Homo sapiens: one gene and its partners. The protein of the gene in region 1 binds, or shares a complex with, the protein of each later gene. Each region holds a gene or a part of one and is shown in the gene's direction. Other genes may lie near its edges. The genes, in order: WDR20, USP12, USP46 and WDR48.

Region 1 (7,614 bases):
AAAGAGGACAGGCGAGTGGGAGACGGTTGTGCTTGGACATGAAGGCAGGCACTGGGTGACCTGGCCTTTCTCTATCTGGGGTGGGGCTCCAAAAAGCTCTGGCCCAAGAGTGGAGTCCATAGATTTTTCAGAAATACAATTTTTTTTATGGGCACATAACCTAGCAGTCACTTCTGACTTCTTGGTAATTCTTACTTGGTAAAGGTGACATGTTGCCTGGCTGGACTTCTGCTGTTCCCGTTTGGTCAGTGCCACTGGAAAGGGATTGGGGAGGGAGGAGTGACCTTAGGTGAGAGAGATTCTAAGTGTTCCTTGGGGTCAGCCAGGTCTACTTTTGTGTCTTCTAGACAGTGCCACTCACACTAGTGTTGACAGATCAACTTTAAAAAAATTTTAGTCTATGTGGATTGATACTTTTGTAAAATAAAAAGAATTAATAGGAAAAGAAACTGAAAAAGACATACAGAATATAAACTCTAACTTTTTATCATTACATTCAACAGATATAAAATTTGTCCGTTGCCATAAAAGTTTCTAAACTCTTATTCTCAATGTCTGTACTACAGGCAGTGCATTTGACTGCAGACTAATAAACTAGTCCTGGACTGGTACACTTCAAGAGCAGTGACCTAAGAAGAAAGTTTGTTAAGCAAATTAGTAGAATAAACAGGATATTTTTAGAATATTTACCTGAATTTTTTTTTTTTTTTTGAGACAGAGTCTCGCTCTGTCACCCATACTGGAGTGCAGTGGCACGATCTCGGCTCACTGCAAGCTCCGCCTCCCAGGTTCAAGCGATTCTCCTGTCTCAGCCTCCCGAGTAGCTGGGACTACAGGTGCCCACCACCACGCCCGGCTAATTTTTGTGTTTTAGTAGAGATGGGGTTTCATCATATTGGTCAGGCTGGTCTCAAACTCCTGACCTCAGGTGATCCACCCGCCTCAGCCTCCCAAAGTGCTGGGATTACAGGCGTGAGCCACCGTGCCTTCTGGCCCATTTTACCTGATTTAAGAGTAAAAATAATCTCTTCTCATTTAAAATGCTTCCATCTTTTCAGTAAAGTTCCATATTGGGAGGCAGGGATGTAAAAATATACCAATAACTGAAGCCATTATAGTTGTGAGGGGTCCCTAAGTCTAACTCTAAACTGGTGGCAGTACTTGGAAAAACAGGTGCTTTTACTTCCTCTGTTGTTTCTGAGAAACATTACGTATTTTTTAATTTATATTAGGCTATTTTCTCTGTTAATTTCTGGCCAGCCTTTAAATTGATCTGTGTATTTCAGCGCATAATTTTAGGTATATTCTTTCAGGGGAAAGTTCCCTAAGTGGTTGTTGCTGTCATTTGTCTTGCTATGTCATCTAGCCTGAAGTGCAGTGGTGCAATCCTAGTTAACTGTCACCTTGAATTCCTGGGCTCAAGCAGTCTTCCCACCTCAGCCTCCTGAATAACTGGGACTACAGGCATGCACCACCACACCTAGCTGATTTTTTATTTTTCTTAAGCAAACTAAAAAAAAAAAAAGTCTCAAGAGTTGAATATGCTGATACAGTAATTATGTATAACTTAATTGTTCGTATTTCAAATTGGATTTTTGTTCTCTAGCTGCCAGTTATATCTTATTTTATATTTGTAGGTTTTTTTTTTGTTTTTTTTTTTGTGGCTGTCTTCCTCGTTCTGAGATGAATGGCATGTGGTGTTCTCTCAGGCCAGGATTCTCTTTCCCTGCCATCCGAGCCGCTCAGAAGCTGCCTTCCTCAGACAGCCTGTCCGTGGCCATCGTCCCAGGCCCCGCTGCTCACTCGCAGCACTCGGCTGAGCTGCCTTCAGCCTGCCTTGCTGTACAGCGGCCGCTCCCCTCCACTGGCCGCTTTTCTCCTCGCTCCAGTCAGGACTCCCTTTTGTTTTGTATCATGCTTTGTATTACACTTTTCAAGGCTCTTTCATGTATATATTCTCTTATTTCATCCTCCAGACAATCCCATGAGGTTGGTAGAACAGAGATTCTCATCTCCGTTTTAACTGAGGTGAGGCTGGGAGAGTGTCCGCATGGCATGCACCCTCATTCCTTTGCCCTGGGGCTCCCAGAACTACTTGTTACCGCTCAGGTCCAGACTTCTACATGTGCAAGGTTTTGAGTTTGCTCAAAGACGCCTGTAATTTTGAGGTCCTCTTTTCTACTCATTACTTATATTTGTTATTGGAAAGTCCAACATTAGAATACTTGGTTCGATGTCACAGGCCTCTTTGGAAGAAAGAAATCTTCAGAACCTGAGGGGGCGGTCAGTAGAGAACTAGAGCCGGGAGCCCCAGAGGGCCACACAGCGTGAACTGGGTGTCTTGAGGGACAAGTTCTGCTTCAGGGTTAGTTGTCTCCACTGGAGATTTTCAGACAAGAGTGGGAGGGGGTGGGTTTCCCTTATTTCACCAATAAAAGCCCAGCATATTGGGATGCCACAGGACATTTCTCATGAAGAAAAGAATCCTTCTTGAAAGTGGGGAGGGCACATTGAAAAATCACTTTTCACCCAAGTGAGAAATCATTTGCTTTTGACTCTCTCTCCCCATCCCCTTAATGGTCAAACAGACCTGGGTTCCAAATCCAGCCCTGCCACTTACTTAGGTAGGTATGGTGACGTTGGTCAAGTTATTTAACTTCCCTAAACTTGTTTTCTCATCTGTAAAATGGGTAAAATATTGTCCACTTTGGAGCATTATTGTTAGGATTAAGGACAATGCATGTAAAGTCCTTTGATTATGGCCTCGATAAGTAATGTTCCCCGAAACCTAATCCAGAAGAGGGATTTTGACCCAGGAAGGGAGCCACCTGTATAGAGTGGGCTCCAGCAGTGGTTCTTAGACTTGAGCGGGCATCAGAATCACCTGGAAGCCTCTTTACGACTTGCTGGCCCTACTCCCATAGTTTCTGATTCATTTAGTCTGGGGTGAGGTTTGAGATTTTTGCATTTCTAAGTTCCCACATGCTGCTGCTGCTGCTTCTGGTTTGGGGATTACACTTTGAGAACCACTGGGCTGCAGGTAACTGGCCAGTGGGCATGTAGGTGCTGTAGATACATTTGAAAGCCGAGCTTTTTATGTGGTTACTCTGTTAGACACTGCTTGAAATGCATTTTGAAAATACTGAATTTAATATCTCAAGGATATTTCCTGCTGAAGTCCAGGAGTCTTTGTTACATATATTTGAAGGAGAATAAGTTGTGAAAGTAACAGTTGTAAACATATTATAGATAGTCTAATAATATCTAATTGGCTAAGGTATGTGAAAGTGCTTTTATAAAATGTTAGATGATGTTAAGTCACAACTGAAAAAACATTTTAAATCACTTTGTTTTTAAGATGAAACATCATAATGGAGTATAAAGTAGCATAACTTAGATTTCTCATCTCAATGTGCTGTTTACTGTATGTATTTTTCTCTTTCTCCTCCAGGCTGCTGACTTGAGTAAACCAATAGATAAAAGGATATACAAAGGAACACAGCCTACTTGTCATGACTTCAACCACCTAACAGCCACAGCAGAAAGTGTCTCTCTCCTAGTGGGCTTTTCCGCAGGCCAAGTCCAGCTTATAGACCCAATCAAAAAAGAAACTAGCAAACTTTTTAATGAGGAAGTAAGTAGCACCCTGTCTTAGCTGTTAAGAATCCCTTTAAGAGTTGATACATTCTTACCGAGGGTAGTCGGCCTTATTTTGCACTTCAAGCTAAGCCCATTTTTTATTCGCCCAGCCCTCCTACCTAGTATGCCCAAGTTTAAATGTGGTGGATTAATTTGTTGACCTTACCTGTTCTTCCTTGGGGTGACTGTTTTGTGCATTTTTATGGAGCATGCTCAGGTGTCTATAACAGGTGTTTTAAAACTCTTCTATAATGGAGATAGGGACAGTACTGTAACTCGGTATTTATAATTTAAGTAAGAAAATGTGGAATTCCAAAGTTGGTTCACATCACCAGAACATTTCATGCAGATCAAAGAACTTGATGACATTTCCTTAGGCTGCTTAAATTGTAGCCAAAGCTTTTGTATGTATGTTTGACAGTCATTTGGCTAAGGAGTACTTCACTTGCTCTTGAAAATAGTTACTGTAAACTCATCTTTGACATAGTTGGAAATCCTGGCGCTTAAAGTTTGGTCACATGACATAGCTTTTGCCAGTGTTGTAGTATGTACTGGGGTTTCTAGTATCTTCAATTTCATTCTGGAAAGAGCCTGAGATATCTGAGCTGTCTGTTCAGGAACATGTCAGGACTGTTAAATGTGGCATATAGAAATTGCCAAGTAGATTATATTTTTTAAAGCTGTTGGAGCATCTTTCAGCCTCAAGTATTGCTATTTCATATTTAATATTCTTCCTCGTCTGTTTCAGTATGACTTTTCTACCAAGTGGAAAAGATAAGGTAGGCTTGCTGAGTTAGAAGCCCTGGGTTCCAATCTCTACTTGGGACCTTGCCCCTGAGGCGCAAGGGTCAGGCTATGTGGGACCCCCTCCCTTTTGCATTGTTGCATGGTTTTAACATCATTAACTTGGAACAAAAACACATTATAGAGTATGGTTTTTAAGAAATAATTTTGTTTGGGGAAGAAAATTCAAATTGACAAATGGCAGTTAAAATTTGGATTCTTTTGCAGTTATGGTACTTGCTATTCATGCAAATCAGTATCCACCCAGGGTGCTCCTGTTTGACATTGCCAGTGGATTTGATAAGATCTTATGAACCATGCCATCTCTTCTAGTTTCCTCTGAGTTGACTGGAAACAAAACTTGCCATCTGGACTGACAGATTGTAGAGGAAAAGTATTTAATCCCATTTTCCATTAAAAAAAAGTTAAGCAGAAAATATTTTATTTACCTAGATGTTTTTTTAGTATCATCTGCAGAAGTGATTTCTAAGTAGCTGGATGATTATTTTTTTGGTGCTGAGTTTGGGGAGCAGCGCACAAAATTGGCCTCCTCTGCACTGTTAGCAGAAATTGTGAATTTGGAATCATTGTGGGTTTTTATTGTTTAGGTAGGGGAGAGTGTGATTGGAGGGGGCAGGGATTGGAGCCATGTAAGGGCTGTTAGTAAACAAGACCCGGAGGCAGCCCTGGCCGAGGATGGTACAGAATGCCGCTTAGAGAACAAGAAAGTTTTGTGTGTCGTGGCAGGGGGAGGGCAGGGAGTTGGAGACCACACGTCCCCAGAATCTCAGGGCTCTGGGAGCACTCAGGCTGCATTGGCCAGAACTATCCCTGCCCTGGTGACTGGGAGTTGCAGGCTGGAAGGCAGCTCCTCATTCTTCATGATTTAAGCATGAGTTATCTCATACTCACTTTACATTTTATTTGAGAAATTGCTATTTAGAATGCTAAGACTGTGTGTGGTTTAATGCCAGCTTTGCATTTACAGCTTGAGGCTGAAATCGATTGCCCTTCATAGTAAGGAGATCCTCTGGCCATGTGGATACATTTTTATCAGATTTTGGTCAGAATGTCTAAGAGCAAGGGTCACCGGAGGTTTGTTCCTTAGAGAGTGCCAGGAATGGTGGTGAAGTAGTCATCGTGTCGTGCTTTGCTGTGGTGTGACATTTACAGGTTTCAAGGCACTTTTACCTATGGCCTCTACAGGGAGGGTGGGGAGTTGTTCCCATTTTACAGATGAGGAAATAGTCAAAGAGCACATAAGTGAATTGTCCAGATCAGGTAGCAAGTTGATGATAGAGTTGGAACCAGAAATTAATTCCAGAAACTCATTGGTTACAGGACCCACCATGCATGGTTGCCAGATGAGCTCTTGCCCTTCCGGGAGCTCACAGTTTAGTAAGAATGGACAGAGAGTACTGGGCACGTGTCAGCACAGCGATATGAACAAAATACCAAGGGCTAGCTGCCGCAGGAATTCTTTAGTATGCATTTTAAAGTTTTTTAAAATGTTAAGTTCACTGGGGGAGTTCCAAGAAATGCTTTTAGAAAGTGATGTTTGATGTGGGTCTTAAAGGGTACATAGTCATTAGAGGAGGGTAAGGAAGGCCTTCAAAGCTGGAGGAACAACTAGGCATGTGAAAGAACATCCAGTAACAGCTTGGCCACATCACAGTGTGGGACTTGGAGTGTCAGAGTTCGAAGCTGGAAAGATAAATTGGAACCAGCTTGTCTTATAAAAGCCTTTTCATGTCACGTGAAGCAATTTGGAACTGACACTGGAAGATGTGGGGGAACCTTTGGCCTTTTAATGAAGGGAGTGACAGGATCAAATGTGTTTTTTTAGAACTCTTGTCAGCACTTGTGGAAGGTGGATTGGAATGAAGAAAGACAGAATGAAGGTAGCAAGACCAGTGAGGAGGCTCTAGTAACTGTCCAGGTGAGAGCTGAGGGCTTGAACTAGAGTTGCGGCCATTGTTTCATTCATTCAGGACCTTGACTACCTACCACATGCCCAGCACTGGGTCTGCAGCAGTGGGCAAAACCTGCCCTCCTGTGACCCCTCTCAGGAGGGAAGAGAGGTATAATAGCACCACCCCCGAAACACTGGTGACCACAGATGGTGACACTTTGTGATGTAAGAGGCAAGAGAGCAGGCCCAAGAAAGGGAGAGAATCACAGAGGTCTACTTTATTTATTTATTTATTTATTTATTTATTTATTTATTTATTTATTTATGAGACAGAGTCTTACTCTGTCACCCAGGCTGGAGTGCAGTGGCGCAATCTTGGCTCACTGCAACCTTCACCTCCCAGGTTCAAGCTATTCTTGTGCCTCACCCACCCAAGTACCTGGGATTATAGGCCACCTGACTAATTTTTGTATTTTTAGTAGAGACGGGATTTCACCATGTTGGCCAGGCTAGTCTGGAACTCCTGGCTTCAAGTGATCCACCCACCTCAGCTTCCCAAAGTGCTGGAATTACAGGCGTGAGCCACCACGCCTGGCCAACACAGAGGTCTACTTTAAACTGGGAGGCAGAGGACATCTCTCGGACGAAGTGCTATGTTTTAAGCTGTGCCTCATGTGAGAAGAAGGCCAACCAGGTAAGGAACTGGAGATGGAGCTTTCCTGCAAAAGGAATAGCACATGAGGGCCCTTGAGCCCAAGGAAACTGAAAGAAGGACGGTTTACCTGGGGAAGGTGGCATGAAGTAAGGGCATGAGATTGGAGGGCCACATCACCTACGGCCTGATCCAGATTTGTTTCTTAGCCTGAAGTACGGGATTCCTTAGAAGGGAGCAGGTGCACAAGGCAGGCAGATTGGTGTTTTTGAAAGGTACCCTGGCTGCTTTTTGGAGACTGAATTGGAAAGGTGTATTAATAAATCAGGTTTCTGGGTGTCTCTTGCTGTGTTGGGTGAGACTGGGAAAGGAGCAGTTGTCAGGGAATGGAGGGGAAGATCAGAGGTTCTGGTCTGTACTTGCTAAGTTCGAGAGACCTGTAGATAGTGGGATGTATGGATCTGGAGCACAAAACTAGGGGTTACAATTTGGCAGTTGTCAGCATAGAAATAATAATCACATCCTTGAGATTAGATGAAAGGTTCTTTGGAGAGATGATGGTGAGAACAAAGAAGGCCTGGGTCTGAGGCCTGATTATACTCCAAGATTCTGGCCATCTCAGCTACTG
Region 2 (7,614 bases), on another chromosome or scaffold:
TGTCCAACCCGACCCTCCATCCCCTTCATACAGTTTCATGGCATTTTTGTAATCTCAGTAGCACTTATCATACTTACTGTGCAGTAAATTTTTCTTTGAACTCTTACTCAATTGTGAGGGCCTTGAAGGGGAAGGATTATCATTTACTTCTGCAGTTTGATCTGGAGTACCAAGTTCTGCATTCAGTATAAAAGTTTTCCAAAGTCCTTCCTGCCTCCTCCTGGTATGCCGGGTGAAGCAGGGATGATGTGGCTGTGTGTGTGTGGAATGGTGGAGAGAAGATGGGCTGGACTTAAACAGAACACTTCTCAGAATCAGCAGCTGTGAAAACATTTAGGATGAGTTGAAATTTTATTCTATAAGTACTGAAGTGTACATAATTTTTTCATTTGTCAAAATAACGTACCTGGGCAAATCTGCAATACCTTAATTGGGTTAAGTAACTGTTAAAAACAATTCTCTTCAGCTGTGTCTTATTTTAGATCACTAGTGTTGTGCTTACATGTGAAAATTAGTAAAACTTGTTTTTCATAAGTTAGTATTATAGCCTGAACCAAATGAGTGATTATGTTTAGATTGCAGTGAGTACATTTTCAAGGGTACCTCTTGAAATACCTGTTTTTAATTTGTCTATGAAATAATACATTTTCAGTATCACATAGTGTTTATTTTGCCTTTGAAGTAGTTTCAGACTTCAGGGCCTGGCACGGAGTACCTGCCTACCTGATATTTAATATTATACTTAATAAGTGTGAAATAACGGGAAAAGTGACAGAATACATGTAGAGAGGCTGTGTTTTGCAGTTGAGGTGGCTAATCCGGGTGGTCCGTCATGGGCATGCAGTAGTGGTCAGGACAGCCCCTGCTTTGGAGCTGGCACTACTTACTGTTAGCTCCATAAATGTTAGCTCTGCCTCTGATCATTATTGTCTCTTCCTGTTTGGGTTGTAGGAGTCATGGTTAGGAAGGCGTTGTTGGGAGGGGGACCAGACAACGGAGAAGTTGTTGGTGCAGGAGGTGGGTAGAGTTAGATCATGGGGTGGCACTGGCCTGGCTGCTTGCCCACCCTCGGTTACAAGGGCATGAGATTAGATCCATTAGAACATGGTGGTAATGAGGCCAAAGCTGGTAAAGGTAGGTGCTAGGAGAGTCCCACGGGCTTTTCTTCTGAGAAAGCCTGTGCCTAGCACAGCACCCTGAGCATGGTAAACTTTACTTGCTGAAGAAAGGCACAGGTGAAACTGGCTGTCTTTTCTTTTTTGTTTGCTCTGTTTTAATAACACGATTTTTAAAAACATAAATTAGAAAGGACATACATGGAAAATGTTTGCCTTTTCTTACTGCTCAGTCTCACTGGGATCCAGGTAAGGGTATGTGTGGTCAGTGCAATTTATCCTTACTACTGAAAAAAAGGAAAGCTGGGGCAAACCTCAGAGCCCATGCGTTGTTGGGAATGTGTGTGTGTGAAAGTCTCCTCTTCATATAACAAGAATATTATATTAAATAATGAAATTTCTTTTTCCTTCTCAAGAAATAGGGTGGATGTAGTTCTTTTATTAATAAAATATTTATTTGTAAATTAATATTTTATTAGTAAAATAGTACTTCTATGATAGGAGCATTCAAATGTGAGTTGCCATTGTTTTACTTATCTAATTTTGCTGTGTTAATTTAAGAAGGGAACAAAACTTAAGCTTCTTAAGCCTTTAAAAAAAATAAGAAAACCTCAAAAATAAGGAATCTTCTATTACATAAATGTTTGGTCAAAGGAATGTTTGAGCTTGGTGGAGAGAGAACATTTAGAAGAAGTATTAATAGAAGTTTTATTTAAGCCCACTCATCTTTTGAATTTGTCTAAAATACATTTTGGACATTAAAAATGATACATTCTCATAGAAAATCTGGAAAATATAAAAACTCCAAGAAAGCAAAAGGAAGGTCAATTTTTACCTCCCAGAGGATATGTTATTTATTTATTTATTTTATTTTTTTTTTGAGACGGAGTTTCACTCTTGTTGCCCAGGCTGGAGTGCAATGCTGCAATCTTGGCTCACCGCAACCTCCACCTCCCAGGTTCAAGTGATTCCCCTGCCTCAGCCTCCCGAGTAGCTGGGATTACAGGCATGTGCCACCACGCCCAGCTAATTTTTGTATTTTTAGTAGAGATGGGGTTTCTCCATGTTGGTCAGGCTGGCCAGAGCATATTTTATTTAACTTTTTAAAAAACTTGAGTTGTATTCCCTAGATATAGTTTTACACTGTTTACCCACGAATGATTATCATGTTATCATTATCATCATTCATGCCCATCCTAAAATTTGCCCAATTTTAGGATGAACATGAGTTTAATGTTATAAAATGATGAGGTGGTGAGATGAGCCCAATAAAGCATAGTGGTAGGGTACTAGGGCGTTGACAGGTTATATGTTTAATGATTATTAGAGGGTAAAGTGATATAGTTAGCAGAAATGGAATTTTATAAGAGGTGGTTTATTCTAATCTTAGGCACTTAGTTATCACAAAGATAAGACTTGTTATGATCTGAAATTTTTAATATGCTTGAAAACTCTAGTTTTAAATACCATATTCAATTATGTGGCATGTGTATAAATATTATGGTCTTATTTTATATCATATGGCTTTGCTTACCTTCTGGTGACTTTCTCTTTCCACCTTTTGCTAATAAGTGGCTAATAGGTCTCAAAGTAGGTTAATTATCTGCCCTACCATGATCCATGTTGGCCAGTTGCAGCGAGATGATGTCACATTTCTTGTTGCCTTATTTGATTCTAGACTTTTGACCAAGTCCCCCCAAACTGAGTCTGCCTCCTTTTTGTCATTTACCAAATTCCTTTCTTCCTGCCTTTAAACTCATATTTATTCTAGCTCTTCTGAAACTTTTATTGTCTCAGGAAGTATCTTTTAAGCATTTGTATACTTTGTATAATTCCTTTCCAGAAACCTTTTTAGATTTAAATAATCTAATTTTGTTTTGGTTTCTCTTTTAGCAGCTCTATTCCAGAAACTTAATATGGTATTTTGTTATGTATTTGACAGCATGGTATAATGAAAAGAGCAGTTGGACCAGAAGGTAAATTCTAGTCCAGATTTTGACATTTAGATGTGTATATATGGGAAAGTTTCTTAAAACTTCGAGTTAATTTTTCTCATCTGTGAAATAAAGGGATTGGACTAGATACTCTTTAATAGATATTCCTTATATGCTTGTCTCCTTCTAGGTCTAAAATTCTGATCCTTTAGTAGTTTATAAATGATTATTGGTATCATTTTCATCATTTTAGGAGCTCTTTTTTAAAAAATTATTATTATTTTTTTTGCTCTGTAGCCCATTTCTAGAACATCTTGGGAGTTCTAATTATGTTTTAGATAACATAAAAAGCATAGAATCAGACATAATTAAGCAAGAATTTCACTTAGTTCCCTAGTTTTTACAGTCTAAATACATTTTTCTTTCTTTAAAACTGGAGGTTACTGATACCACCATTTTCGTCACCAACAGCCTAATAATTCACAAAGCTATTTGCTAATTTTTGACACTTTTTTCTTTGCCAGTACCATTAAGGGATTTGAATTTTTTTGAGGTTCCATGTTTATTTCTTTAGTTATGAGTATGACCTTGGACAAGTTACTTCTCTGTACCTGTAAAGTGAGAGTAAAATAACATCTAGTTCATAGGGTTGTTGACTAGTACCTGGCCCATGGTAATCACTGTGTCATGTTGGCTGTTACTGCCCTTTAACATGATTTGCTCCCCTCCCTGTGGTAAAAAGTATTCATTGGCACTACTAATTAATCTGTTAGCTCAACATATACTAACCAAAATGGAAATTTGTTTTGTGAAATACAATTGTCAGTTCCTTTTCATTATAAGAAACGTTAGTTTATTAGTAGTATATACCCCTGAGAAAGCACTAATTTATTTTGAAATTGAGTGGATTAATTCATAATATGAAAGCTGAGAATGTAGATTGTCTTCTTTCTCTATTTTGAATAGTTCATAGAATAATTTATTTCTTTTATCTGGGAACAAAAATAACTGGTCTAATTTGTGACATTCTCAAACATATTTTACAAGTTTAGATAAGTTGAGAATGGCAAAAACCACAATTACTTTTGCAACAATCTAATACTTTTAGAAGAAAAATCTATCTTACCTTATTTTATACTAAAAAAAAAAAAAAGCACACCAGCTTTTTGTCATTACTAGAACAAGGTGTGTGCATTCAAGTTAGCTTCAGGACTTATTTTCTTTCAGATTTTTCTGTTTACTGAGGCCATATTATTATATTTAATTTCCTTATGCTCTATCCTTTAGGGAGCATAACAAGGGAATAACATCTCTTGTTGGCTTACATTGAACTTACCCACCTTGCTCTTAGATATCTTGTCTAAAACCTACAGTCCCAATCTCCTAGTCTAGAAGAGGGATATTTACATATCTACACCATACTTTAAAGGTGTTGGGAGAAAGTAGTAAGTGAAGAGTTGTATTATGAAGAGTTACACTTGCTGAACTGAAAACTCTCTATTGGAGTCCCAGTATTGTTGAAAAACTTACATATAACATTTGACCATTTGCTATCTTATGTGCAGAATTTGCTTTAGGAGGTTAGAGTGGCAGTTTATATACATTTATTTAGGAAGAAAAACTAGTAAGTCTTTGCTTTCTCACAGCAAAACTCGAAGACTTTTGTGATAGTGTAAACTATAAGAAATTTAATGTAGAGCACCACTGTGTGAGGTGGTATAGCCCTCTCTGTTCCTTGGCTTATGCTTTGCTGCTGCTTCTCTTTCAGAAGGACCATTAGCTTCTTCTAAACAGTATGTTATGTCTAAAGAAGAGATGTGTAAGCTTGCTTTATTTATCTGTAGTGAGCCACATGTCCAAAGCTACGTACCAATAAAAATTTATTTCCAACTGAAAACAAGAAGTAGATGTTTATTTCAGTGATAATGGACAGATGTTCTTAACTGAAATGCTTCATGGGTAGAGGAAGCATCCACACATTCTCTACTTGTAAAGGGTGGTTTAAATCATAATATCTTTCAGTAGAGTTAGAGTACTGTTGCCTTTGATTTTATTTTAGTGCTTTTTATTTTAGTGACCTACTAAGCCTCTACCTGATGCTAGTGATTTTTTTTTTTTTCCTTTTTGTAGGGATAAAGAGTGCTTTTTCTAAAGTATTTTGAGGAAGGATTCATGGAGACCTACATTATATCGTGCTGCATGTAGGTTCTGAGAACATGAAGACGACTGTGATAAACTCTGGTCTTATGGAACTTCCCATTCAGTGTGTCTTGAGTGGGTTATAGTTGTGCTGAGGAAGTAGTCCTCTTGACCCCTGGGAAGCCTGGAGGTATCTGGGTTGATAGGAGACCCTTAGCCAGTCCCTTTCTGGTGAGAGCAGACATACCTGTCTTACCTGTAGCTTCTTTTCTTTTTTTTTTTTCTTTTTTTTTTTTTTTTTAAGACAGGTCTTGCTCTATTGCTCAGGCTGTCTCCTACATTTAAACCATCCTCCTGCCTTGGCCTCCCAAGGTGCTGGGATGACAGGTGTGAGCCACTGCACCTGGCTATGTCTGTATTCTTGTGGGCTTTACATATACTATTTTCTCTGTGTGTCCTGATGAGAAGATTGAAAACCAGCTCTACTTACAGTATTGTAGAAGAGGATGGACGTATAAAACAAATGCATGCAATGAGATGTTTTTCTTATTGGTATAAGTAATGGTAATTATATGTGAAAGAGAAGGTGGTTTTGGGAGAGAGAAGAGGGCTTCAGGAAAAAGCTTCTTAGAAGAGAGTTGAACTTTGCAAAATGAATGGCCTTTATTATGTGGACATGGAGGGATGGGATACCAGATGTAAATAGATAATGTGTTACTCTTAGGCTCTGTAGGTGGTTTGGCGTGAAAGCGGGTCTTGTGAACAGTAAGGCTGGAGAGTAGGAAGGGGGCATATTTAAAGAAGTACCAGGAGTTTACCAAGTATTGATTCACATTAAAATGATTATTAAAGTGTGTGTTTAGCCTGAGGAAATGTAAGTCCAGAGGACAGTCATGAGGATATAAGAAACAATGGAGTTGGTAAAAATATGCTGGTAAATTGAATTACATTGATTTTTCAAAATTTGCTTGTATTTTTTTTAAGAAGAGAAAATGACAACAAAACAAGATGGATGGGGTACAAGGACAGTTCAGTGGGTTGTTAAAACTTGTTAAGGGCCTCCTTGTTTAAGAGCCAACTAAACAACCACTATTGGAAAATTTTGGATTGTATATACATGTTAAAAAATTAAGGATAAATACACACCCACACAGGGAGTGAATTTTCTTGCTTCCGTAGCAGCAGACATTTAAACGTTACCATTCAAACTCTGAGGGAAGGAAAATAGGAAAAACAAAATGAAAAAGAATGACAGAAAACACAGGTGGAAGAAATAAGCTCTTCTAGTTCATTAATCATAATAATCCAAATGGTTCAAACTTACTTTCATTGTATTAAAGGAACTATCAGAATGGATAAAAAACAAAATATTGCTCAATAAGAAACCTACCTAAAATGAAAGGGCAATCTCTTTAACAGTAACACGATAGTATTGTCACAACTAAGAAAATTAACAATAGATTTTTTTTGAGGTATTTCAAAAGCATTAATTTTATTTTGTTGTTGTTATTAGTCTTTCTCTATCTGTCATCTTGAAGATCCATTCAGAATTAGGAAAGGTTAGGTAGTATTAGCCCCATTTTCACAAAATGGAAAAGGAAGCTTAAAGTCAGCCCTGCAGCAGCTAGGGATGGGGTCCAAATTTCTAGACATGCAAACTCGTTATGACATCTACAGGGCAATGTGTTGCAGGTTTGATGGTTGAGACAAAATTACTCCTTTTCAAACAAGAGATTGGGGAATTTTTATTCCTGACTTTTCGGCTGCATATCTGTGTGTGTGTGACTTTGAGTCCTCACTAATTATTTTCACTTGGGTAGGCCGTTTAACTGGTTTCAGTTATGAAATGGAATAATAATTTCCCCATTAGATCAGATGAGATGACACATGTGAACGTCCTTTGTACTATAAATACATATCAACATCACCCTTACATGGTCATTGTTGGTAAGACTCCATGCCCTCTTAAGGAAAGGATGGAAAGCACATTAAGATACTGTGGACTGTAGGAGTTGTAACGGAGCTCACAAGTTACCTTTGACAAAGCGTAGTCATTTCAAAGTTTGAAAATGAGTATTTTAATGATCCATGAAGCAAAGTTTTAGATTACCCTTAAAATCTTTACTATGTTAAAAATGTACAGTTAATGAGTGGCTTTTTAATTTTTTTTTATTTTTTTTTATTTTTTGAGACAGAGCCTTGCTCTGTTGCCCAGGCTGGAGTGCAGTGGTGCAGTCTCGCCTCATTGAAACCTCTGCCCCCCGGGCTCAAGCTATCCTCCTGCCTGAGCCTCCCAAGTATCTGGGACTACAGGCACACACTACCATGCCCAGCTATTTTTTCTTTTTAATTAATTTTTTTTGTAGAGACAGGGTTTCACCATGTTGCCCAGGCTGGTCTCAAACTCAAGTGATGTAGCTGGCCTC
Region 3 (7,940 bases), on another chromosome or scaffold:
AAAAGTCCAAAGTCCAAAGCCTCATTGGAGACAAGGGAAGTCACTTTCACCTATAAGCCTGTAAAATCAAAAACAAATTATTTACTTCCAAGATACAATGGGGGTATAGGGATTGGGTAAATGTTTCCATCCCAAAAAGGGGGAAATTGGCCAAAAGAAAGGGTCTACAGGATCCACACAGCTCCAAAACCCAGTAGGGAAGTCACTAAATCTTAAAGTTCCAAAATAATCTTCGACATCATGTTCCACATCCAGGCCACACTGGTACAAGGGGTGGGCTCCCCAGGCCTTGAGCAGTCCTGCCCCTATGGCTTTGCAGGGTAAAGAATCCAAGGCTGCGCTCATGGGCTGCAGTTGAGTGCCTGTGGCTTTTCCAGGTGCAGAATACAAGCTGCTGGTAGATCTATCATCCTTAGGTCTGGAGGGCAGTGGCCCACTTCGTATAGTTCCATTAGGCAGTGCCCCAGCGGTGACCCTGTTGGAGCCTCCAACCCCACATTTCCCCTCTATACTGCCCTAGTAGAGGTTCTTTGTAAGGGCTCCACCCCTGTAACAGGCTTCTGCCTGGACAAACAGACTTTTCCATATGTCCTCTGAAATCTAGGCAGAGGCTGCCAAGAATCCACGATTCTTGCACTTTGTGTGCCTGCAGGCTTAACACCACATGAAAGCTACCAAGGTTTACTGTTTGCATTCTCCAAAGTGGCAGTCCAAGCTGTATGTAGGCCCCTTTGAGCCATGGCAAGAGTGGGAACAGGAGCAGCTAGGATGTGGTGAGCAGTGTCCCAAGGCTGTGCAAGGTACCATGGCCCTGGGCCCAGTCCATGAATCTATTCTCTCCTCCTAAGCTTCTGGGCCTGTGATGGGAGAAGCCACTCTGAAGTTCTTTGAAATGCTTTCAAGGCTTTTTCCCTATTGTCTTGGATAGTAGCACTTGGCTCCCCTTTAATCCTGCAAACATCTCTAGCAAGTAATTGTTCCACAGTCTGCTTGAATTCCTCTACTGAAAAAGCTTTTTTCTTTCTCTGCCACATGGCCAGGCTGCAAATTTTCCAAACTTTTTTTGCTCTGCTTCCCTTTTAAATATAAGTTCTACCTTTTGTCTTTGCTCCCACATCTGAATATAAGTGGCTAGAAGCAGCCACACCACTTCTTGATCACTTTGCTGCTTAGACATTTCTTCTGCCAGATACCCTAAATCATCACTCTCAAGTTCAAACTTCCACAGATTCCTAGGGCATGAACAGAAGGCAGCTAAGCTCTTTGCTAAGGCGTTAACATTGTGTGACCTTTGCTCTAGTTCCCAGTAAGTTCCTAATTTCCATCTGAGGCCTCAGCAGCCTGGACTTCACTGTTCACATCACTATCAGCATTTTGGTTTGAAGTCCAGGCTTCTGAGGTCTCGAATGGAAATAAGGAAATTATTGGGAACTAGAGCAAAGGTCACGCATGTTTTGCCTTAGCAAAGTGCTTGGGTGCATTCTGTTCATGTCCTAGCTATCAGCATTTTGGTCACAACCATTTAACCAGTCCCTAAGAAATTCCAAACTTTCCCTCATCTTTCTGTCTTCTTCTGAGCCCTACAAACTCTTCCAACTTCTGCCTGTCACCAAGTTCCAAAGCTGCTTCCACATTTTCAGGTATCTCTACAGCAATGACTCACTTCTCAGTACCAGTTTTCTGTATTAGGTCATTCTTGCATTGCTATAAAGAAATCCCCAAGACCAGGTAATTTATAAAGCGAAGAGGTTCATGGTACTACAGGCTATACAGGAAGTATGGCACCAACATCTACTTCTGAGGAGTCCTAATGAAGCTTCTAATCATGGCTGAAGGCAAAGGGGGAACAAACATTCATATGGCAGAGTAGGAGCAAGAGAGAGTTGGCGGGGGCGGGGGGGGGGGGAGGTGCCACACCCTTTTAAATGACTAGATCTCGGGAGAACTCACTCATTATTGTTAAGACAGCACCAAGCCATGAGGGATCCTTCCTCATGTTGCAAACACCTTCCACCAGGCTCTGCCTTCTAGCTCTGCCTCCAGAATTGGGGATTCCAATTTAACATGAGATTTGGATGGGGACAGATATCCAAACTATATCAGCCGTGTAGTGCCACCCTCTAACCCATCCTTCCATTTTCTTGCTTTTCCCAGTCCTAACTATACCTGCATATCAGCTTACCTCAAAGTTCTCTCATTAGCTTGTCAATATTTTTAAGATTTTACCTCTTATCATCCCTGAATAATGTTTCCTCAATGAGTGAAGCTAAGATTATGATTATTCTTCTTCAACCCAAGAATTTTCCAATTTAGACCTGTGAATACCACACTTGTGGAAATGTAAAATGTATTTAATCTTTCATAAGTCTGACAAGCTCTGCCATGTTCAACTGATTTGTTGTGTATGTAATTCACTGCCTGAGTTTCAATCTGGATGTCTATATTGAACACTTCAGTTTTAGGATATATACCATTAAAAGGTATGCAAAAGATCCTTTTAACTTGCTGATATAGCACTCAGTAATCAGATGCTGTTCAATTTCCATTATGTCGATGGTGTTTTCAATCCTGTGAACTTTGCAATCCATGCGCCAATGTTGGCAGAAATACTGAACTCTTATTACAAAATTTTCATATCATTTAAAGCTTTAGATTATTGCCTTTATAGTGGAACTTCTGTGAAATTGAGTCCTGAGATCTGAGTTTTAGCCTTGAGGTTGCTCCTGACCTTGAGACATTAATACTCAAATCTTAAAGTTTTCTGGGCCTCCGTGCTGGGATTGGTCATAGTTCAGTTGTTTCCTGTCTTCTCTCTTCTCTTCCTCTCCCAGAGTGCTCAGCCCAGGTTACCACACCAACTTAATCTGTAACATTTCGGTAAGTCATCTGGGCAGGATCCTTGATCCTCTAAGCCTTATGTGACTGATCTGCAAAAAAGGAGATAATAGCATGTACCAGCTGATAGTTATGGTGGCGATTAAAGGAGATCAGGAATGTAAACATTGGGTGCAGTGGTTCACGCCTGTTGTCCCAGCGCTTTGGGAGGCCAAGGTGGGATGATTGCTGGAGCCCAGGAGTTTGGGATGACTCGGGGCTGCCCAGCCTCAGGCTGGGCAACATAGCGAGAACCTGTCTCTTAAAAAACAGAGAGAGAGAGAAGAAAATCAGTCATGACTTACAATGGAAGAAATTATCATCAGGATGTATTTGGAAATAATATTTAGGTTGAAAGACTTAAGCAGGAATATTATTTCTCATGTCCACTGGAAAACACAGTGACATGACTCCCAAAACCTTCAGTCAACAAGTCTGTCTTACTGTTTCCTCCCCAGATTCTAGGGATATTAGCAATCAACGGCTCTCAAATCTTTACTCTTGGTTAGATAAAAGCTATCTTCAACTAATTTTTCTTCTGATTCAATTTGTCATTAAATACACTGATCTAAGAATTTATCACGCATCTCACTTGTACAATTTCTCCTTTGAAAGCATCGAATTGCAACCTTGTATGTGTAACTGTTCCACACATTCAGAAACGGGCCCCTTCAATTCGCGTGGACCTATCTGCTAAGTGGTGCACAGACTCGCGCTCTGAGCCCGCAGCCACGACCTTTAATGCGGGAAATGTGCATGATCCCATACAGCGCCCATCTCAACAACTAGAGGCTGGGTGCACCCGAGAGGGGTATGCCTGCCTTGAAGATATGGAAAAGTTTTGTTTTCGTTCTTTCCACTCCTTGGACAGTCCCTAGTGCTTGCGCGGAACCGGGACGTCTCCTTTGGACCCGCTAATGTCACAAGCCGCCCGAGCGCGCCGCTGCTGGCCTCCGCCCAGACCCGGATTCCTCCCCCTTCCCGGCGCCCTTTCTCGGGCGCCCGGCCCGCAGCTGGCGAGGGCTCTCTGACCGCTCCGGTGTCCTCGCCCCATTTTACTTCTTGGGTCCCCGCCGGTGCCATCTGGTTGGAACCCTCGGGAGGAACTAAAAGTTGGACGTCGCCACCCCTACCCCTCGCCAAAAAATAAACACCGGGGGCTGCCGAGGCCCGCCAGGAGGAAGGCGACGAGGAAAAAGCGAGGACGGAAGGCGGCCCCGGGTTCGCCCCGGCCTGGGCCGCCCGCTTCCCCACCCCGCGCACCGTACCGTCCCCGGCTCCCTGGCTCCCCGACGGCGAGGAGGGCCGCCGCTTCCGCGTCGGGGTCGGCCGGGGGACCTGCGAGGTGCGGCTGCCGCAGCGGCGCGCCCCGGAGCCTGGCCCGGCATTCCAGTCCGAATAGAAAGAGGCAGGGAATCAAATGGAAAAGCAGGAGGCCAGGCCTGGGCGGGCGAGCTGGGAAGGAGGCGGCGCGGCGGGGCCCGGGAACCCAGCCTGGAGCGCTCTGAGCGGCCGGCTCGGACTCACGCGGCGCGCCCGGGCCGCCCCTCCTCCCCGCGCCGCCGGCCGCGGCCCAGGCTCCCTCGCTCCGCCACTCCCCGCCCCTCCGCGCTCCCTCCCCGCCCTCCCCGCGCCGCCGCCTCCTCCTCCCGGCCTCCCTCTCCCAGCCAAACTGAAAGCCGGACCCCAGGCCGCCGCGCTGCCGCCCGGCCTCCCCGCCAGCGCGCCACCATGGGCAGTCCCGGTTTCCCCTTGTAAAGATGGCGGTGAGGGATCGCTGCAACCTTTAGACTAATGACTGTCCGAAACATCGCCTCCATCTGTAATATGGTGAGTGGCCGAGCCGCCTCGGGGTCGCGCCCGACTCGCGGCGAGGCAAAGAAAGGGAAGCCCGAGCTGCACACACGCCCGGTGGCTGGGGCGGCGGGGGCGGCGGGGTCCGCGCCGCCAGAAGTTCCCGGCCCCCGAGCTGGGCGCGCGGCCGCAGCCACCTCAGCGGCCGGGGAGGGTCCCCGAGCCCCCGGCGCCCGTCTCAGCCCCGGGACCTCGGAACCCGCCCGGCGATCCCGGGGCCGCGCTGCTGCGCCCCCCGCCCTCGGGTTGCGGTGGAAGCGGCTTGAGGGAAGGGAAGCGACCGAACCTGAACGTCCCCGGGGAGGGGGTGGGGGATAAGCTGGAGGTGGGGGGCACCCATCCTCTTCTTGCGGTCAAGACAGCCTTATTGGACGTCCAGACTGCCCTCATCTCATTTTGAGTTCAGTCCTTCCGAGGTGTTTAAAATTCACTTTGCAATAGCAATTGTGTATCTGGAGAAATCGGAAATGTAATAAAGCTGTAAAAAAAGTGCAAAATTGTGGCTGGAGAAGTGAACTTCAACCTGGTTTGAAAAAGCACCGTAATTTGCTCCGCATGCCTCAGTTTCCCCATCTGTGAAAAAGGGACAAGGCTCTGTGGCGGTAATATTTGCAGGCCCTAAGGGTGGGGCGGGCTGTGGGCTTGGAGGAGGTCTCCAGGGTTATCCTGCCTGATCCGCTGTAGACCTAGGGGAGGCTGGCGGGCATGGATACAGCCAGGGACATCACTGGGTTCTGATGCAGTCCGAGCCCATGATGCGGTGGTCACTTTAATTTGGGTTTCCCCCATTGCTTTCCCTTTTTCTGTAGGAAGAACCTCCAGCCCTTGGGTCCCCAGGCTGGACCCTGCTGGCGCCTCCACTTGTCAGAGCCTTTGGGGAGCTCAGATTGGAGTAAGGCATTGCTGTCCCTTGCAGGGTGAGATGATGTGTGTTTTGCCTACATTCTTTAGACTGCACCCCGCCTCCCCTCTAGCCCCCTCCCAAGCGGGTCCCCGGAGGCAACACGTGCTCTTACAGTGCCAGTTTGAGGAAAACCTCCCTTGAAGCTAGTAATACTGGCCCCTAAAGGGAATCCAAGGAAGCTTGATGGAGAAGCCCTGGTGTAAGGTGATCTGGCTGCCCTTCCCCCATCACATAGCTTTTTAAATCTTCTGTCCCACATTCTGTTGCAAGATCAACACATGGCAAAGGAGCATTAAGAAGCCTTGTGTTAGCTCAGGGGTGGAATTGAGACCCGCTGGCTTCAGCTTTCAGCACAATGGGACGTGCCACTGTCACGGCCAGCAAAGCAAATGCTGGGGCCTCCCAGAGTGATAGCTGCACAGGTACTGGTTGGTGCCGGGCGAGTTCCATACGGGGAGTGGATCCTAGAGCCTTTCTGTTTTCTCTTTTTTTCCTTTCTCTGCGAGGAGTCAGATTTCCTCTTATTCCTGTGGAGGGGCTGCTTGTGAAGAGGTGATGCCTTCTCAGTTTCTCTCCTACGACCAGTTCCTGAGGGAACTGTGAATCGGGAGCAGCTTGAATACTCTTTTATGTCTGTTGGTGTGGCCGCAGGCCTAAGGATACTACAGGGTAGTGAGGCTCCGACCCAGCCCTTGGTGGTGTTCTTGTCCTGCTTGTGTGTGGTTACACCTCTCTGTGTAGAAGCAGGCTGGAAACTTGAGAGCTAGCATGCCCCTAGAGGAAGCCAGCCCCCAACCTCCCCCCACGCGTCCCCCCACCCACCCTCAGTGCTGCGGGGGCTTTCTGGCACACCTGGGCTGAATGTCACAACGTGTTTCAGTGAAACTCAGTCAGGGAGACAGGGTGTGGGGAGGACCTGAGAGGAGCAGGCCAATACTGCCCTGAGAGTTGACATCTCAGGTGGAGACCTAAAAAGGTACCAAATTTAGGACCATCACCCAGATGAAGTGAGGAACCAGTAATTCATTAAGTAAGGAGTCTGATGTTGTATTTAGACGCCATGTCTAGAGAGTGACAGAGTTTGGGTTCTAATGTCAGACTTCCTGGGTTCAGGTCCTGGTTCTTTTTTTTTTTTTTTTTTTTTTTGACAAGGTCTCACACTGTCACCCAGGCTGGAGTGCAGTGGCATGAACATGGTGGCTCACTGCAGCCTCCACTTCCCAGGCTCAAGTGATTCTCCCACCTCTGCCTTCTGAGTAGCTGGGACTACAGGCACGTGCCACCATGCCTGGCTAATTTTTAAATTTTCCATAGAGACTGGGTCTCCCTATGTTGCCCAGGCTGGTCCCTAATACCTGGGCTCAAGTGGTCCTCCCACCTCAGCCTCCCGAAGCGCCAAATTACTGCCGTGAGCCACCATACCCGGCAGGTCCTGGTTCTAACACATGTTGGCTTTGTGTCCTTGAACAAGTTGTCCGGTCTTAGACTTTCCTTATCTACCAAAAGGTGATGTTAATATTGTTGTATTACTCGGGCACAGGGCCTGGTACATGGCTAGAACTCAGTGAGTGTCATTGTCAACATCATCTTTCTCATTGTTATGTCATCTACCAGGTGTTTAAGGGACAGTGGAGATCATGCCATTTCAGACCTGGTGGAAGCAACCACTAATATAAACACCTCCCATGTATAGGAAGGCTGGAGTGGGAATCCTTAACCCCGCCCCCTGCTCAGGTCAATCCCCCACCCACCGCCCCCACTGTCCCTCCCAGTCTTCCTTCCCAGAGGAGAAGGCTGGGTATGAGGAAACTGCTGTCTTTTCACTGGATCAGACGTAAATATTAACTGGACCTCTCTTTAGATTCTTTGCTCAATAATGAATTGTTTTCAGGTAGGTGTCTTACAGGTCCCTTCTCACTGCTTAGCTCCTCTGTGGGCCTCTTACTGACCCTTCCCGCTCCTAACTTTGGTCCCAGCTGGTTTGAGTAGTTGTAGTAAGAGCAAATGGTGATTGCATTTTTTTCTTAAGCACATCGTTTAACATATTTTGAACAGGCTGATATGTGTTCAGAAAGGATATTAGAAGGTACCATTTTTCTGGGTAACAGGAAAAAACGAAGATCTATCATTGAAAGTGGATTTGTTTCCTCCACCAGATAAGAAAGGACCCAGCAGAGCAGAAATCAAATTTGTAGCAGATACTTCGTGTGATTGAGAACTAAACATCCCCTCTTTTCCCCATACTTCTTGTGCCAGTTTTAGTTATAGGAAACTTGGAAAATATCTTCATTCCTCCACTTACCCACCC
Region 4 (8,544 bases), on another chromosome or scaffold:
AGAGTGCTGGGATTATAGGTGTGAGCCATTGCACACAGCCCCCCACCCCCCACCCCCACCCCCATCCCCCCACCCCCACCCCCACCCCCTTTTTTTTTTTTAAGACTGGGTCTTGCTATGTTTCCCAGGCTGGAGTGCAGTGACTATTCACAATTGTAGTATACTGCAGGCCTCAAACTCCTGGGCTTAAGCAATCCTCATATATCAGCCTTCCAAGTAGCTGGGACTACAGGCATGTACCACCATGCCTGGCAATTAACTGATTTTTAACAAAGGCCCTATAACATATTGGGAAAAGAACAGCCTGTTCAATAAATGGTGCTGGGAAAACTGACCCCCTATATGAAAAGGAAAGAAACTAGACTCCCTACGTCTCACCCTATACAAAAATCAACACGAAATGGATTAAAAACCTAAATATAAAACCCAAAACTATGAAACTACTAAAAGATAATACAGGAGAAATGCTTCAGGACATTGGCCTGGGCAAAGATTTTATGGATAAGCCCTCAAAAGCACAGGCAACAAAACCAAATATAGACAAATTGGATTACATCAAACTAAAAAGCTTCTGCACAGAAAAGGAAACAATCAATAGAGGAATGAGACAGCCTACAGAATGAGAGAAAATATTTGCAAAGTATTCATCCAACAAGGAATTAATATCCAGGAAGTATAAAAAACTCAAACAACTCAATAGCAAAAAAAACCCAAATAATTTTTAAATGGGCAAATGATCTGAATACACATTTTTCAAAAGAAGACATATAAATAGCCAACAAATACATGAAAAAAATGCTCAACATCACTAATCATCAGGGAAATACAAATCAAAACCACAGTGAGATATTATCTCACTCCAGTTAGAATCGCTATACGAAAAAGACAAAAACAAATGCAGAGGGTGAGGATGCAGAGAAAAGGGAATTCATACACTGTTGATAGGAATGTAAATTAGTTCAACCATTATGGAAAACAGTGTGTAGATTTCTCAAAGAACTAAAACTACAACTACCATATGATCCAGCAATCCCACTACTACCCAAAGAACAGGAAATCAGTATGTCAAAGAGATACCTGTCCTCCCACAGTTACTGCAGCACTATTCACAGTGGCCAAGATACGGAGTTAACCTAAGTGTCCATCAAAAGAAGAATGGATAAAGAAAATGTGGTACATATATGCAATGAAATACTATTCAATCATAAAAAAGAATAAAATTATGTCATTTGCAGCAACATGGATAGCACCGGAGGTCATTATCTTAAGTGAAATAAGCCAGGCACAGAAAGATAAATACTGCATGTTCTCACCAATATGTGAAAGAGAAATAAGTTGATCTCAGAGAAGTAGAGAACAGAATAGTGGTAACTAGTGGCTGAGAAGGGTAAAGGAGAGGATTATATATAGAGAGGTTGGTTAACACATATAAAATTACAGCTAGGTAGAAGGAATAATTTTTGGTGTTCTATATCACTGTAGGATGACTATGATTAACAATAATTTATTCCATATTTTCAAATAGCTAAAAGAGTGGATATTGAATTTTCCCAAAGCAATTATTACAGATTGTATACAGGTATCAAAATATCACACTGTACCCCATATATATGTACAATTATTATGTGTCAATTAAAAAATACATCCACAAATTTATTGATACTTCATAAAAAAAGGAGTCATCTAATCCCCTCTCCTTAGACACTGATGGCCTTAGTAACTAAGTTCTAATGAATTGACTATGGCTTAAAGTGACACTGCATGACTTCCACTGTGAGTTTAGAAAAAGCATTATAGCTTTCAACCAGATTTTTCTTCTTCGGGATGCTCATCCTTGGAACCCAGTTAGCATATTGTGAGGAACCAAATAGTGCTGTGGAAAGATCATGAGAAGGTGTTCTAGCCACAGCTTTGGCTAAGGACTAGGCCAACACCAGTATCAGTCACCAGACATGTGAGAGAAGGGGTCTTCAGATGATTCCAGCCCCAATCTTTTAGCTGCCCCAGCTGATGTGAAGTGGATAGTGGAACAGAGACAATCTGTTCCCATGAAGCTCTGCATAAATTACAGATTTGTAAGTAAAGTAAGGGTTGTAATTGTTTTAAACCATTGCATTTTGCAGATGGTTAAACAGCAATAGATAAAAGGAACAGGAAAAAAGAGTGCTGAATATTGGACAGTAGTTCAGAGCATATACTGCATCCTACAGGACAGTATCAAAAAGGGTTATCTCCCAGAAGGCACCATAGCTAAGTCTTCAATATATCTTCAATAAGACAAGATACTTCTCAGTGATTGAGTACACAATTAGACCAATAAATTCCATGGGCAATAGCCCATTGCATTACTTCTTTCATTGCAGAGTGAATTTCTTGGTCAAAAGCAATATAGTGTTAGAGAAAATGATAGTGTCTAAAGCACTGAGTAATTCCCTAGATGGTGGTGTCAGCGGAAGTACAGTGAGCAGGGAAAGCAAATCTCAATCTAGAATAAACATATTTTAGAGAGGACAAATAAGAACTCCCTCAATGATGGGGAGGGCCAATGACCAATGGAATAGACTTGCCTACATGTGACTGGCTGACCCTCCCAGAGCATGGGGTATTGGTCACTGCTTCTGAACACCCAGCGGTGGCTTGGTGATCCCATGCATAGCTCCAATCCTGTTGCCATTGCCATTGCCATTTATTTCATGATTCTACTGAGCAGGCAGTGAGGCTGAGTTTCATCACAAAGCAGTTCATTTCATCCATATGATTCTTAAGATTTATTCTGAGAGGTCCATCACTATATCCCTTCTGGAGTCTTCCTTGTCACTAGTTCTCCAGTCTTGCTCTTTCCATGTCCTTCACAAACTGGCCAAAAAATTATCCTCTGACCCTGAATTGACCATTTCTCCTTTCAGCCAAACTGAACATCAAAACATACTGGTGAAAATTCTGCCCACTGAAAGAACTTCACTATTTCAATATTTTTCAGGTCCAAAGCAGGACTACAACATATCAATTTCTAGCAAGTACCAGTATATTGTCCAGAGCAACATACCTGTATTGTATTTTGCACATCATAGGTGCTCAATAGACACTTAAGCAATTTTTAAAATACAGACATATTATTTCCCTACCTGTATTTCAACAGCTTCCCATTGGTCTAAAAGATCCTGCTGGGTATGGCCTCTGCATACTCCTTTCACTTCTCTGTACTCTAAGCCTTGACTCTCAGTTCCTGTAATGTTCCATGCTCTCTCCTGCTACAAGACCTTTGCTCAGACTGTTCCCTCTCCTTGCCTAGTTAACTCTTGACTCAAGATACTTCCTGTCTTACAATCATCTTTCTTCATAGTACTTATCTCTGTATTAATTCCTGTCTCATCCTGGGACTCTAAGTTCTATGACTATGTGCACTCACCACTGATTCCCCAACACCTAATATAGTGCCTGGCATATATGATATGCTAAATAATATTTTGTTAAATGAATGAATACATGAATCAGTGAATGAATAAGCCTGTAATGATGCAGTAATTTACCTATAAGTTATCACTGCCAGTTTTGCTTAAGAAGCTTTCTGCCATCACAATTTTTACTCATCTAATTCACATTTCTTTATTAATTTAAGAAGTATTTGTCAAGACAACTTTTCTAAGCATTACTTATATACTAGCACTATGCAACAGAAATTTGTGACCACATATGTAATTTTAAATATTCTAATATCCATGACAAAATTAATAAATTTTATTTAGCCTAATATACCCCCAAACATCATTTCAACATGAAATCAATACAAAAAATTATTAATGAGATATTTTACATTCTTTTCTTCAAACTAGTCTTTGAAATTTGGGGGTAGTTTACAATTACATATCTCAACTGGAACTAGCTATATTTCAAGTGCTCAAGAGCCACAAATGACTAGCAGATACATCATATGCTATATCCCACAGTGTAGTTCTATAGGATTCACTTTCACTAGAGAGGGTCTGATCACCCTCAGCTCTTATAATTAGTGGTCAGGAAAACCACCTTAAGTCAAACCTAACTGTTCCAGTATAAGAGATGATTTAAACTAGAATTGTCTCTGGGAACAATTTTAGCTGGTGTACCGTTTTCGCCTTCCTATAACATCTTTTTGTCTTGTTTTTTTTTTTTAAACTTTTAAGTTCAGGGGTACAAGTGCAGGTTTGTTATATAGGTAAACTTGTGTCACGGGTGTTTGTTGTACAGGCTATTTTGTCACCCAGGTATTAAGCCTAGTACCCATTAGTTATTTTTCCTGATCCTCGCCCTCCTCCCACCCTCCACCCTCCGAAAGGCCCCAGTGTGTGTTGTCCCCCTCTTTTGTGTCCATGTGTTCTCATCATTTAGCTCCCACTTATAAGTGAGAACGTGCGGTATTTGGTTTTCTGTTCCTTTGTTAGTTTGCTTAAGGATAAGGGCCTCCAGCTCCATCATGTCCCTACAAAGGACATGATCTCGTTCTTTTATGGCCCCACTTTTTATCCTTTTAATTTAAACGGATTCTTTGCTCCCCCTGAAGATGGAGGCCACCTCCTTTGCAAGGACTTCTATCTCTCCCCCTTTGAGGCCACGACATAATTCTCCGCATTTTTAGGTACTTAACAGTAAATCACTTGGTTCACTTGGTTCTCCTGCCTGCCTAGGAAAGGTCAGGAGATGGTCCAGCGCCATGTCTAGCACTGTTAATTCTTTCAGTGCTTTCGTTTTGCTTGGGCCTCTCGGGGAGGGCGCGGAAAAGAGCGCAAGCCAGGGTCTAGGACCACACAAGTGAATTCGTGTTGCTCCCTCAGCCCTGAAAAGTGGCTCTCTCCCCATCAGCATTATACTTGCACAGTGGTTTTGTTTTTAGGTGCATCTACCTCATCACATGGCTACCGGCCACACAGCAACTAACAGCACCGAGGAAACACAACAGCCTGTTTACCTTCAGCCCCGCCACTAACCCTTGGCCAAAGGGAAAGGGGCAGGACATCCTCCCGCTCTGAGCCACCTCCGGAAGTGACGTCGGAGTGTCAACATGCAAGATGGCGGCCCATCACCGGCAGAACACAGCAGGGCGGAGGAAAGTGCAGGTATGGAAGCCCGGTTCCTCGGTCTTCCGGACGCGGCCGGCAGCTCCGGGCCCACTCCAGCTAGAAGGTGCCCGGCGCCACGACCAGCTGGGGTAGCGGCATGGGGCGAACGGGGCGGGGCGCGGCCGGCCACGAGGGGTGGGGCCGCGGCGCTAACGGCTTGAGGAAGGGGCGGGGGTCGGCTTGCTTGGCCCTTGGGGCCCAGGCCCGGGACCCTCGTGGGCGGCATTCTGAGCCCGGGATTGCTTGTCGCCGCTCTTCTGTAGGAGTGGACTTGCGGGGTCGGGATAGGCTCGTTCCCCGCCCACTTGCCTCCCCCTTGCCCTGTCTTTCTTCGAAGCGCTCTGCCCTCGCTGCGTCGGAGCCGAGGCCTCCAGGGGTTTCCCAGGGGGGTGGGCGTTGGAGGAGTGAGCGGCTTGTGCGGGGGCGTGGCGAGGCGGCGGAGCGCCAACGGCCCTGCGGGGTTTCTGCTGAGGATTCCGCACTTGGGAGCCCCCAGCCCTCTCTTATGTGGGAGCTGTCCCCTGGGTAGGTTTAAGTGACATAAGAATGTGCGTGGGGAAATTATAATTTTAATTGTTTTGGTATTTAAGTTCCTCTTCACCATTTCTTCATCTTAAGTGTGCATCGCTGAATCTGTCTTTATTGTTTGTGTAATTTATTGTCCATGTGGTAAAGAGTTGTCTAATCTTACCGTGTGTGTCTTGTGCCTTATGCCTTTGTGAATTCACTTTTGTTTGCGGTTACGCTTAAGAGTTACTGCCACTTCGGGGAACATCACACACCGGGGCCTGTCGGGGGCTGGGGGCGCTAGGGGAGGGATAGCATTAGGAGAAATACCTAATGTAAATGACGAGTTGATGGGTACAGCAAACCAGCATGGCACACGTATACCTATGTAACAAACCTGCACGTTGTGCACATATATCCTAGAACTTAAAGTATAATAATAATATTAAAAAATAGTTATTGCCACTTAATATTTTCAGTGATGCAGGGAATAAAAGCCCTCTTACAGGTGTTTGCCTGCAGGTATATTGTATGTGGTAGTGGCAGTTTGGTGCATTTATTCATTAAACATTTACCTAGCACTTAGGGTGGCCCCCAAAGGGGAAAAGGGATTGAAAGGGTGTAGAAATAATTAACACCTAGGCTTTCTTTATAAAACACAGCATTATATGGAGTTCTGCGGGTTGAAATCAAGTGTCAGATAAAGGTAGTTAGATGAAGGGGTCCTTCAGTAAGGTAATCCCAGCAGAAGGTGGTAGGCCATAAAGTCTTCTGATTAGTTCACATCTTGGTTTTATTGATCTCACTGATCAGTACAGTGTCTTAAGCACTCACTGGATGTTTGTTGAAATGAGTGAAATTAATAAGTCTAAACTCACCCTATTAGGTGTTTTTCAGTGCATTAGTGATAGGATTTAAGTATCACCAGCATCCAAGGCAGGTAGTGAGAATGTCTCCTTGGGACTGAAATATAACTCAAAAAGTAACCCGATTGTATTATAGACTCTATGGTGGTGTACATCTTAGGAGAGTAAGGGTAGTTAATCAGGCCTTTCAGTTTATTGCATTAAGACTTAAAACTCCTATTACTGCAGTGTGTTCCCTGCTTGCTTCCTTCCCAGGCCTGCCCACTCCCAAAATGCATGCAATAAAGTATATATATTTTAAAAAGACTTACAAGGCAATTGTACTAGTATGGGATGGAGAAAATGTAAATTAACTGCAGCAGGTTTGGAAAAACAGTGTTCCAATAGGCTGAATGTGAGCCAGTGCACGTAGAATGAGGCAGGTGATAGATAATTCCACTTTTCACTGGTCAAAGTACAAAATTAGAGTTTGGTGTTCAGCACTTAGGACCTTGTTCTTCATAGGTAGCAATCAGATTGGTGAACTGACTTGAAATTATTTCCTATGAAGAACTTTTGAAAGAGCTGTCTTAGATTAACCTGCTGAAGAGAAGATTCAGGGAACTTTCGGAATTTGTCCCTAAGGTATAGAAGCAGCCTGAGAAGCCACAGGGATTGATTTCATCTGAACCATCATTGTCTATGAGGTGTTTTTTAAACTAATGCGTGTTCATTGTAAAAATCCCAACAAACAAAAACATAAATTAGAGTTGCCCTCCATGCTTCCAAGAAAGCTACTGCGGGCAATGTCATGTTTTAATCCTAGACCAGAGTTTATCAACCTGAACATTCTTGAAATTTCATCTGGATAATTCTTCGCTGTGTCTGAGGGAGGGAGCTGTCCTATGCATCACAGGTTCTTTGGCATCATCCCTGGCTTCTACCAACTAGATGTAGTAGCATCTCCCCAGTTGTGACAACTAAAAATGTCTCCAGACATTTTCAAATGTCCCCTCAAGGGCAAAATTGCCGCTGGTTGAGAACCGCTGTTCTATACCTCTTGCTGTTTGTGTACCTGACTTAACATATTTTTTTGCTATAAATGGAGCCATAGTATTCACTGTTTTGTGTCTTGCTTTGTCAAATTTTTAAATAAACATTCCCTTTAGCCCAGAATTCCTTATCTAAAAATATATTCTACAAAATTGCATATGCATGTATCTGTCCCTACTTATGCAAGGGTGTTGTGTGAAGCCATTCTTGAATTGCTATAAAGAAATACCTGAGACTGGCTCATTTATAAAGAAAAGAGGCATAATTGGCTCATAGTTCTGCAGGCTTTACAGGAAATATGGTGCTAGGATCTGCTCGTCTTCCAGGGAGGCCTCAAAGAGAGAGAGAGTCAAAAAAGCAAGTCAACATGGCATATTCCCATTTCCACAAAGGAAATATGCATTTTAAAAGTCAGGAAGGGTAATAGCAGTGATTATCCCTTTGGGAATAGATTGTGTGATTATAGATAAGACAGGACATGGGATATCTTTTAGTTTGAAATATGCACAACTTTGTATTTTTGAACTTTTTACCACATTATTTGCTCTTATACATCAAAAAGAAAACTTCTCATCTTGGAAAAAGCATACATGGGTACTTGGAGTAAATATACTTTGTCTCCTGACTGTCTCAGACCACGAGACAGTAGCCCTGAGCTCCTTGTCAAGTTGTAGGCCAAGACAAACCCTTGAGACTTAAAAATATTGCTAAATAATCAGTGGAGGCCAGGCGTGGTGGCTCATGCCTGTAATCCCAGCACTTTGGGAGGCCAAGGTGGGCAGATCACTTGAGGTCAGGAGTTCGAGACCAGCCTGGCCAACATGGCGAAATCCCGTCTCTACTAAAAATATAAAAATTGCCGGCATGGTGGCGCATGCCTGTAATCCCAGGTACTTGGGAGGCTGAGACAGGGGAATCGCTTGAACCCAGGAGGCGGAGGTTGCAGTGGGCCGAGATTGTACCAGTGCACTCCAGCCTGGGTGACAGAGCGAGACTCCATCTCAAAAATAAAATAAAATGATACTTAAAATCAGTGGAGAGGG

What was found.
Region 2: the proteins of WDR20 (region 1) and USP12 are in contact, whole or in part, in a crystal structure (PDB 5K1C), measured with the Homo sapiens proteins. Residues at the interface, in NP_653175.2 of Homo sapiens: Asn41, Ser42, Gly44, Ser45, Arg151, Ser170, Lys259, Ser260, Tyr261, Phe262, Gly263, Glu282, Asp283, Asp284, Leu285, His301, Lys304, Ser305, Trp306, Gln374, Asp375, Thr376, Arg516, Met517, His533, Glu534, Arg535; in NP_872294.2 of Homo sapiens: Glu207, Asn209, Thr210, Ser211, Thr213, His214, Arg217, Arg277, Val279, Phe280, Pro281, Leu282, Glu283, Leu284, Arg285, Phe287, Asp297, Met299, Gln342, Glu345, Tyr348, Thr351, Ser352.
Region 3: the proteins of WDR20 (region 1) and USP46 are in contact, whole or in part, in a crystal structure (PDB 6JLQ), measured with the Homo sapiens proteins. Residues at the interface, in NP_653175.2 of Homo sapiens: Asn41, Ser42, Gly44, Arg151, Lys259, Tyr261, Phe262, Gly263, Glu282, Asp283, Asp284, Leu285, His301, Lys304, Ser305, Trp306, Gln374, Asp375, Thr376, Leu509, Arg516, Met517, His533, Glu534, Arg535; in NP_073743.2 of Homo sapiens: Asn205, Thr206, Ser207, Thr209, His210, Arg213, Arg273, Val275, Phe276, Pro277, Glu279, Leu280, Arg281, Phe283, Asp293, Met295, Gln338, Glu342, Tyr344, Thr347, Ser348.
Region 4: the proteins of WDR20 (region 1) and WDR48 are in contact, whole or in part, in a crystal structure (PDB 5K1C), measured with the Homo sapiens proteins. Residues at the interface, in NP_653175.2 of Homo sapiens: Arg20, Ser364, Thr384, Glu385, Asp386, Glu524, Pro525, Leu526; in NP_065890.1 of Homo sapiens: Val191, Lys207, Gly208, Gly240, Gln241, Gln242, Arg243, Cys244, Ile245.

What each region holds. Positions count from the first base shown.
Region 1 is NC_000014.9:102,191,487-102,199,100, forward strand, and holds part of WDR20 (WD repeat-containing protein 20), read left to right. Parts: intron 1-1,976; coding exon of another isoform or gene 1,977-2,028; intron 2,029-3,451; coding exon 3,452-3,634; intron 3,635-3,640; exon of another isoform or gene 3,641-4,387; coding exon of another isoform or gene 4,388-4,418; intron 4,419-6,268; coding exon of another isoform or gene 6,269-6,361; intron 6,362-7,614. UniProt on the Homo sapiens protein: Regulator of deubiquitinating complexes. Activates deubiquitinating activity of complexes containing USP12. Anchors at the base of the ubiquitin-contacting loop of USP12 and remotely modulates the catalytic center of the enzyme.
Region 2 is NC_000013.11:27,161,644-27,169,257, reverse strand, and holds part of USP12 (ubiquitin carboxyl-terminal hydrolase 12), read left to right. Parts: intron 1-122; exon of another isoform or gene 123-321; intron 322-6,334; exon of another isoform or gene 6,335-6,398; intron 6,399-7,614. UniProt on the Homo sapiens protein: Deubiquitinating enzyme that plays various roles in the regulation of the immune response and inflammation.
Region 3 is NC_000004.12:52,655,879-52,663,818, reverse strand, and holds the start of USP46 (ubiquitin carboxyl-terminal hydrolase 46), read left to right. Parts: upstream 1-4,517; 5' UTR 4,518-4,668; coding exon 4,669-4,704; intron 4,705-5,537; exon of another isoform or gene 5,538-5,645; intron 5,646-7,279; exon of another isoform or gene 7,280-7,508; coding exon of another isoform or gene 7,509-7,523; intron 7,524-7,940. UniProt on the Homo sapiens protein: Deubiquitinating enzyme that plays a role in behavior, possibly by regulating GABA action. May act by mediating the deubiquitination of GAD1/GAD67.
Region 4 is NC_000003.12:39,046,981-39,055,524, forward strand, and holds the start of WDR48 (WD repeat-containing protein 48), read left to right. Parts: upstream 1-5,035; 5' UTR 5,036-5,045; coding exon 5,046-5,093; intron 5,094-5,311; exon of another isoform or gene 5,312-5,621; intron 5,622-8,544. UniProt on the Homo sapiens protein: Regulator of deubiquitinating complexes, which acts as a strong activator of USP1, USP12 and USP46. Enhances the USP1-mediated deubiquitination of FANCD2; USP1 being almost inactive by itself.